Regions from separate parts of the Homo sapiens genome. Here region 2 is linked to region 1. Evidence: fine-mapped expression QTL. A gene starts in region 1. The other region holds a variant in brackets. All regions are shown on one strand. Distances are between the middles of the regions.

Region 1 (4,393 bases):
GCCCACCTCCCAAAGTGCTGGGATTACAGGCGTGAGCCACTGTGCCTGGCCAAAAATATTTTTCTTATGCAAGTGATAGTATACTATATACACTGTTATTCACTTTTCTCTTAATATACCTTTAAGACTAATTCATATTAATACATATAACTCATTTCCCAACAGTTACTAGCTGCAGGGTATTCCACCGTGTGGCTGAACTATCATTTATTTATTCAAATTTCTATTAATGGACATTCGGTAGTTTCCAACCTTTTGCTACTGCAGCTAATGCCGCAAATGAGTATCTTTGTTAGTGCCTCATAACATTTTAATTTTATTTGATTTTAATTAACTTAAATTGTAGAACTGAGGCCAGGCATGGTGGCTCACGCCTGTAATCCCAGCATTTTGGGAGGCCGAGGCTGGCAGATCACGTCAGGAGATCGAGACCATCCTGGCTAACATGGTGAAACCCAGTCTCTACTAAAAATACAAAAATTAGCTGGGTGTGATGGCGCCTGCCTGTAATCCCAGCTACTTGGGAGGCTGAGGCAGGAGAGTCACTTGAACCAGGGAGTCAGAGGTTGCAGGGAGCCGAGGTGGCGCCACTGCACTCCAGCCTGGCGACAGAGTGGGACTCCGTCTCCAAAAAAAAAAAAAAAAAAAGTAGAACTGAAGCAATGAAAACATTTTTCCATTAACCTAACTTGGAATAATATTTTGGATATATTTGGGTTAAATAAAATATTAAAATTAATTTCATAGCTGGGTGAGATGGCTCACGCCTATAATCCCAGCACTTTGCGAGGCTGAGGTAGGAACATGTCTTGAGGCCAGGAGTTCAATACCAGCCTGGGCAACATAGCAAGAAAAAAAAAAGTAAATAATAATGATAAATAAAATGAATTTTACCTGTTTATGTCAAAATTAAAATTGCATATGTGGCTTGCATTACACATAAAAACACACACATATATAATTTTTTTTTTTTTTAAAGAGACAGGGTTCTGCTTTGTCGCCCAAGCTGGAGGGCAGTGGTGCAATCATGGTTCACTGCAGTCTCAAACTCCTGGGCTTAAGCGATACTCAGCCTCTTAAATAGCTGGGACTATGGCCACATGCCACCACGCCTAGCTAGTTTTTTAGTTTTAGTAGAGATAGGGTCTTGCTATGTTACCCGGCCAGTCTCCAACTCCTGGCCTTAAGTGATCCTCCTGCCTCGGTGGCTCAAAGTGCAGGGTATATTTCTCTTAGCTAGTATTGCTCTACATTGTTGTAGTCTGGTGGTGGCCTGATATCCCTACTGGACTGAAAACTCCCTGAAGGTAGGAGTCCAGTCTGTCTGGATTTCTCTTGTGTCTCCATAATCACCCAACCTGACATGGAATAGGTGGTTAATCCATTTTTGTTGAATGAGTGGAAAAATGTGCTCTCCCAGGAAGAAACATATGCTTCCCAGCTTCAAGTGTTAGTGAACATCTTCCTAGAAGGCAGGCTGAGGCGGAAAGGGTATTGACTCCGGCTTCTCCACCAGAGGACCTTGCAATTCCAGTCAATTCCCTCGGTAACTCTTATGGAGGAGTGGCAATATACCTTAAAAAAGGAGTGTGTGTTGCGGGGTATTCCGCTGCTTGGTTATGTCACCAGGTGGATTAAATTTGGACAAAATTTCCCAAGGTGTAGGTACTCTACAAACACTAGTTACCCTCAGGAATGTGCGATCAACAAAAGAATGCAAGATAACAAGGCCCCTAGGCAGCCCCTGGGTCTTGTGGCTCCCGTCGAAGGCAGAGCTCTGGAGCCGCCTACGCCGGGGACAGGCGACTACACCTGGGGCCCCTCACCCTCGGGCCTCCTGCACGTGGCAGGGAAGGCAGGGCGTCTCTATCTCAAAGCATTGGCTGCGCCTGTTACCTGCGACAGGATTCCCGACAAGGGACGGGTACGGCGTGTGCACTCAGGAGCTCCTAGAGCTAGGGGCAGCAACTAAGAAGCTACCTGGCGGATGTTGCGAGAGGACTCCGCCCACAGAACGGTTGGCCCCCAACCCCGCAGCCGGCGGACTTCCCGAGGCCAGGGGTCTGAACGCGCGTGCGCATGGGCGCGCGCCCGGCGCGAGAACGCGCGCGCGCTCTCGAAAGAAAAAAAAAAAAAATCCTCTCCGCGGGGTCCCGCGGCAATTTAGGCCGGGGTCTGCCGACGACCGCGCGTGCGCGGGCGTGCATCTACGCCCTCCTCCACCGCCCCCTCCGCTGGGGGTCTAGCGCACTGCTCCGCTTCCCCCGTTTCCCCCGGGCTAGCGTCCTAGGGGTAAGTGACTCGAGCCTGGCAGAGAGTGAGGGAGAGGTTCCGCCGAATGAAGGGAGGAGGTAGACGGGGCCAGGAGAAAGGAGAAACCGCCCCGGCGGGGCGAAGAGCGCGGCTCTCGAGCTGTAGTCTGCAGGAGACACACCTCCCTCCCTCACGCCCCTCGGGGCTGCGGAAGTGCTCTACAGACTGGAGCTGCACGAAGGCGACCAGCGGACTACCGTTCCTAGGAGGCAGCGCGGCGGTGCGCCTACGGCTCCCGGCAGCCCCCGCGCGCCATTCTCTTTTTGAGTTCGCGGCCGGCTAGGGCGAAACTACAGTTCCCAGGAGGACTCGCGCGAAGCGGCTTGGAAGTGGGCAGCCTGGAAGTCACTCGGGCCACCGGAGCTGGCGGCGTCTCCAGCGAGCGGCGCGGAGCTGGACGCCGCGATCGTGGGGCCCGCGAGGCGGGCAGCCGGGGCGTCCAGGTACGTGGCTCCGGGTGCAGGATCGGCCTCGCGCAAGGGTGGCGGGGAATCGGTGGCTGCCCGGACCCCGAGGGTCAGCGCGGGCGGACGGCCGGGTGTGGGTACTGGCCGTGGGGGGCGGCGGCGCCGGGACTCGCGCCCTCCGGACCCAGCCGGACTCGTGCCCGCATGGCTCAACTTTCCAGGCGTGCACCCCGGCGCTGTGGTGAAGAGCTTGGAGGCGGGGAGCGGTGGATTCGCGTCCCGGCTGTGCCACTCGGGAGCCGCGATCTGGGAAAACCGCGCCGAACCTCAATTTCCCCTGCAGTAAAACGGAGTAGGAGAGCATCTTGGCGGAGACTCTGTTGAGATAATATAATAAAACATTTGGCACATAGGAGGCACTTACTACGTATTTGGGTTATTGTTAGCTCTCCGAAAAATGAGGTGAAGATGTTATCGATTGCATAGGGTGAGGATTAGTTGAGCGTGTGCATGTAAAGAGGTGAGTCCTTAGTTAGCACCCAATGCAGGCTAGCTGCTGTTAACCGAGATTATTTTGTTAAGAGCGTTGGTTTGGAAGGCAGAGAGACCCCAGGTTCAAATTTGAACATTTACCAGCTGTGTGACTTTGGGCAACTGGCTTCACCTCTCTGTGCCTTGGTTTCCCTATCTATAAAATGGGGATTTAAATAGCAACCACTTCGTCGAGTTGTTTTCAGGATGCAGTGAGAATACCATGTGTAAAGTGCTTAGCACAGCAGCTGGCATATAACGCTCAGTAAATGGTACCATTTATTCAGCGTTTTCCTAGTGGCCCAGAGACCCTCTGAGGGTGGGGCTCTGGCCGTAGTATTGGTCACCCCCGAGGGCCAGATTCAGAACTGGTCCAGTTGACTTCCCTTCCTACTACCTCAGGTTCCTCATTTACAAAATGGGATAATAACAAGATCACTCTCAAAGGGTTGTAAGGATTTGCTGAGATTGTATTTCTAGTCCAGCGCCATCTCTCACTAAGTAGCAGCTCTTATGTATTATAATTGTTCTTCAATATTCTCCATCTGGCCCAGAGACTGCCTGACTGTGGGCTGTGACATGACAGCCCTGAGCTCCCCCACACATTTGCTCCCATCCTCAGTGTCCCATCTGTGGAATGGTAGTCATAGGACTTTTGTGCCAGGATTGTTTGGATGGTTCCAGGAGATAATTCATGTTTAGTGCTTTGCACAAGGCCCGGCACACAGTAAGTGCTTATTAAATGATTAAATGTATCTTGCTGTTTTTTTTTTTAATAGGCCCTTTTTGCTTCTGTTTGTACCTACATGGCAGAGTGAGCACAAAGTTAGTGTTTTTTTATCTTCCCCCTCCCTCCCAAATTTTACTTACCAAAGATTAAATTATGGAACACACTATAGTAGAAAGGCCTAAGAAGAAATGGGTCTGACCTGCCATCAGCAGTCCCCTGCTCACACACCCCTCCCCACAGAGCCAGTATGTTCACTCCAGTGCTTTAATTATTGTCCTGGTGCTGCCAGCTTTTGCCTTTGTGTCCCAAAGCCACTGAGTCCCCTGCACTCCAGCTCCAGATGTGGAGCCTGTGCTTCTTTGATGCTGTGGCTCAAAGAAGTGGCTGTTTCTTGGGCACCATAAACTCAGCA
Region 2 (4,393 bases), 270 kb after region 1:
CTTGCGGCAGGGCGCAGTGGCTCATGCCTGTGATCCCAGCACCTTGGGAGGTCGAGGCAGGTGGATCACTTGAGGCCAGAAGTTCAAGACCAGCCTAGCCAACATGGTGAAACCCCGTCTCTACTAAAAATACAAAAATTATCCAGGCATGGTGGTGAATGCCTATAATCCCAGCTACTCAGGAGGCTGAGGCACAAGAATCGCTTGAACCCCGGAGGCGCAGAGGTTGCAGCGAGCCGAGATCACACCACTGCACTCCAGCCTGGCCATTTCCAACTTTTCCTGATTATAAACAGTACTACAGAGACCGTCCTCATACCTGCCTGTGTGTGCTTGTGCAGGCTTTTGGTGTGTGTGTGTGTGTGTGTGTGTGTGTGTGTGTGTGTGTGTGTGTGTGTGTTTTGTAGCTAAGACTATGGGACTATGGGCATGTGCTATTATTCCTGGCTATTTTTATTTTTTTGTGGAGGCAGGGTCTCTAGGGCTGGGCATGGTGCCTCACAACTGTAATCCTAGCACTTTGGGAGGCTGGGGTGGGAGGATCATTTGAGCCCCGGAGTTCAAGACCAGCCTGGGCAACATAGCAAGACCCCGTCCCTAGATAGAGTCTCTACAGCAACTCCTGGGCTCCAGCAGTTCTCCCACCTAAGCCTCCCAGAGTGCTGGGATTACAGCATGAGCCACCATGCCCGGCCTTGTGCAGGCTTTTCTATTGCATGGATTTCTGGGAGGCCAAATGTCTTGTTTTTGTTTTTGAGATGGAGTCTCACTCTGTCGCCCAGGCTGGAGTGCAATGGTGCGATCTCGGCTCACTGCAACCTCCGCCTCCCAGATTCATGCCATTCTCCTGCTTCAGCCTCCCGAGTAGCTGGGACTACAGGCGCCCACCACCATGCCCAGCTAATTTTTTTGTATTTTTAGTAGAGACAGGGTTTCACTGTGTTAGCCAGGATGGTCTCGATCTCCTGACCTCATGATCTGCCCGTCTTGGCCTCCCAAAGTGCCGGGATTACAGGCATGAGCTACCACACCCAGCCAGGCCAAATGTTAAGCTGAAGCCAGTCATCCTTCAGTTCTCAGTTCTGATGCTCTTGTCTCCTGGGGAAAGCATTCCTGACCATTCTTGGTGTTACATGCTTCAGTAGTTCCCTGGACATCTCCTCACCAATGCCTACTCTTTGCTCCATTGATAGATGTTGCTAAATTGTGGAAAGCATTACATAGTTGCTGTTTCAATCCAGTCGGACAATCCCTGCCTTTTGATGGGAGTGTTCAGACCATTCACGTTAAATGTAATTATTACTGCTAATGGTTGGATTTGCATTAGCCATTTTGCTATTGTTTCTGTATGTCTACTATCTTTCTTGCTCCTCTGTTCTTCCTTACTGCCTTATACTGTAGTAAATAAATACAGTTTCAGGCCGGATGTGGTGGCTTACACCTGTAAAATCCCAGCACTTTGGGAGGCCCAGGCGGGCAGATCACCTGAAGTCAGGAGTTCGAGACCAGCCTGGCCAGCATGGCAAAACCCTGTCTCTACTAAAAATACAAAAATTAGCTGGGCGTGGTGGCATGCACCCGTAATCCCAGCTACTCAGGAGGCTGAGGCAGGAGAATCGCTTGAGCCAGGGAGGCGGAGGTTGCAGTGGGCCAAGGTTGCACCACTGCCCTCCAGCCTAAGTGACAGAGTAAGACTCTGTCTCAAAAGTTAAAAATAAAAAATATATATAATTTAGTATAACATTTGGATTCTACTCTTGTGTAACTATCTTTTTAGTTATTATAATGTGCGTCTATCACTGCAATTCAGGTTAATACTAAATTCCAATAAAATATAAAACTTTTCTCCAATATTGTCCTATTTCCTTCTCCCTTTTTTGTGCTCTGTTTATCATAAACATCCATATGTGTTTTAACCCAGCAGTATAGTATTGTCATTATTGCCTTATACAGTCTTATGTCTTTAAGGAAGTTAAGAGAAGAAATAAGAAAGCATATACTTTTATAGAATCTTATTTTAAACCACAGTTTGCCATCTTGGGCTATTCATTTCTGTCTACTGACTCAGGTCATTGTCTAGAGTCATTTCTTTCAGCCTGAGGACTTTTTTTTTCTTTTTTTTTAGATGGAGTCTCACTCTGTCACCCAGGCTAGAGTGCAGTGGCGCAATCTCAGCTCACTGCAACCTCTGCCTCCTGGGTTTAAGCAGTTCTCCTGCCTCAGCCTCCTGAGTAGCTGAGATTACAGGTGCCCGCCACCACTCAGTTAATTTTTGTATTTTTAGTAGAGATGGGGTTTCACCATATTGGCCAGGCTGCGAGCTCTCCTGACAGGCGATCCACCTGCCTTGGCTTCTCAAAGTGCTGGGATTAACC[C/T]GAGGAGTTTTAAAATTATTTTGTATCAGGCAGGTGTGCTAGCAACAAATTCTCTCCATCTCTGTTTATATAGGAACATCTTTCTGTTGCCTTCATTTTTCAAGGATGGTTTTGCTGGGTATAGAATTCCTGGTTAACAGTTGTTTTCTTTCAGCACTTTAAAAGTTACATTTTATTTCATTCTTTTAAATGAGAAGTCAGCAATTAATTGTGTTTTTTTTTCTTTTTTATAGAAGTGGGGTCTCACTGTGTTTCCCAGGCTGGTTTCCAACTCCTGGGCTTGAGTGATCTTCCCGTCTTGGCCTCCCAAAGTGCTGGGATTATAGGCCTGCTAATTGTATTGATGCTCCTCTATATGCGATGCATCATCTTTTTCTTGATGCTTTCAAGATGTTTATCTTAGCATTTTTCTTTTTTTCTTTTCTTTTTTTTTTTTTTTTTGAGACAATTTCACTCTTTTTGCCCAGGTTGGAGTGCAACGGCATAATGGCGTGATCTCGGCTCACCGCGACCTCCGCCTCCCGGGTTCAAGCGATTCTCCTGCTTCAGCCTCCCAAGTAACTGGGATTATATGGATGCGCCACCACACCTGGCTAATTTTTTTGTATTTTAGTAGAGATGTAGTTTCTCCATGTTGGTCAGGCTGGTCTCGAACTTCTGAGCTCAGGTTATCTGCCCGCCTTGGCCTCCCAAAGTGCTGGAATTACAGGCGTGAGCCACCGCGCCCGGCCAGCATTTAACTTTCAACTCCTTTTCTAGGTGTGAATCTCTTTGTATTTTTCCTACTTGGTGTTTGTTGAGCTTCTTGGATGTGTAAGGTTTTCATCAGATTTAAGAAGTTTCCAACCATTATTTCTTCAAATATTTTTTCTGCCCCTTCTCTCCTCTCCTTCCAAAGTTCCTGATGCACATATGTTGGTACCCTTGATACCGTCCCAAAGGTTCTGCTCTGGAAGAACTTCTTCACTCACTGAGCTGGGAAGAGGTGGGGGGAGGACAAAATGCGACAAATTTCCTCTGTTCTTCCCTAAAGTTCAGTTTCTCAAGCATACATGCTTCTCAAATTGTTGTATGTGTTTGGTCAATTTTCGGAGTACTGAAATGGTCATTTGTGGTCAATGTTGTCATCTCTGGGGAGATGTGCCAGTCTTCTCATTTGACTGTAGTCAAAGTACCATCCTGTGATACTGCTAAATTGACCCTCAAAAGGGATTTATTAACTTATATATATAATCCTAGCTGGGTGTGCTGGCACATGCCGTGTTCCCAGGTACTTAGGAAGCTGAGGTGGGAGGATCGCCTGAGCCCAGGAGTTCGAGGCCAGCCTGGGCAACATAGCGAGACCTTGTCTCTTTAAATAAACAAAAAACCAATAATCCTCCCACCCATCCCCCACAAAATGCCCCCTTTTATATACACATGCGTATGTTTTTGCATAGAAAAAGGTTGACCGGGTGCGGTGGCTCACACCTGTAATCCCAACACTTTGGGAGGCTGAGGTAGGCGGATCATCTGAGGTTAGGAGTTTGAGACCAGCCTGGCCAACATGGTGAAACGCTGTCTCTACTAAAAATACAAAAAACTTAGCTGGGCGTGGTGGCACACATCTGTAATCCCAGCTACTGGGGAGGTTGAAGCAGGAGAATCGCTTGAACCCGAGAGACTGAGGATGGAGTGAGCTGAGATTGCACCACTGCACTCCAGCCTGGGCAACAGAGTGAGACTCTGTCTCAAAAAAAAAAAAAAAAAAGGTTAAGGGCCAGGCCCAGTGGCTCATCCTGTAATCCCAACACTTTGGGAGGCCAAGGCAGGCGGATTGCTTGAGCCCAGGAGCTCAAGACCAGCCTGGGAACATAGTGAAACCCCATCTCTACAAAAATTAGCTAAGCATAGTGGTGCATGCCTGTAGTCCCAGCTACTCGGAGGCTGAGGTGGGATGATCACTTGAGGCTGGGAGGTCGAGCCTGCAGTGAGCTGAGATCGCGCCACTGCATTCCAGCCTGGGTGACTGAGACCCT

What was found. PIP is the estimated chance that this variant, and not a neighbour inherited with it, causes the effect.
Region 2: its variant is the best candidate, but not a certain one, in a credible set for the expression of SIPA1L3 in skeletal muscle (GTEx, PIP 0.57).

What each region holds. Positions count from the first base shown.
Region 1 is chr19:37,904,603-37,908,995 of GRCh38, forward strand. It overlaps SIPA1L3 (signal induced proliferation associated 1 like 3), which reads left to right and starts at 2,606. Exons shown (of 22, transcript NM_015073.3): 1 at 2,606-2,756. It overlaps WDR87 (WD repeat domain 87), which reads right to left and starts at 1,992. Exons shown (of 6, transcript NM_001291088.2): 1 at 1,897-1,992. RefSeq lists a silencer at 2,718-2,957 and an enhancer at 3,258-3,317.
Region 2 is chr19:38,177,739-38,182,131 of GRCh38, forward strand. The region is part of intron 15 of SIPA1L3 (signal induced proliferation associated 1 like 3); the gene reads left to right. Among named protein-coding and RNA genes, the nearest start is that of SNORD152, 17 kb to the left of the region's middle. The variant C/T (reference allele first, on the strand shown) is at 2,376.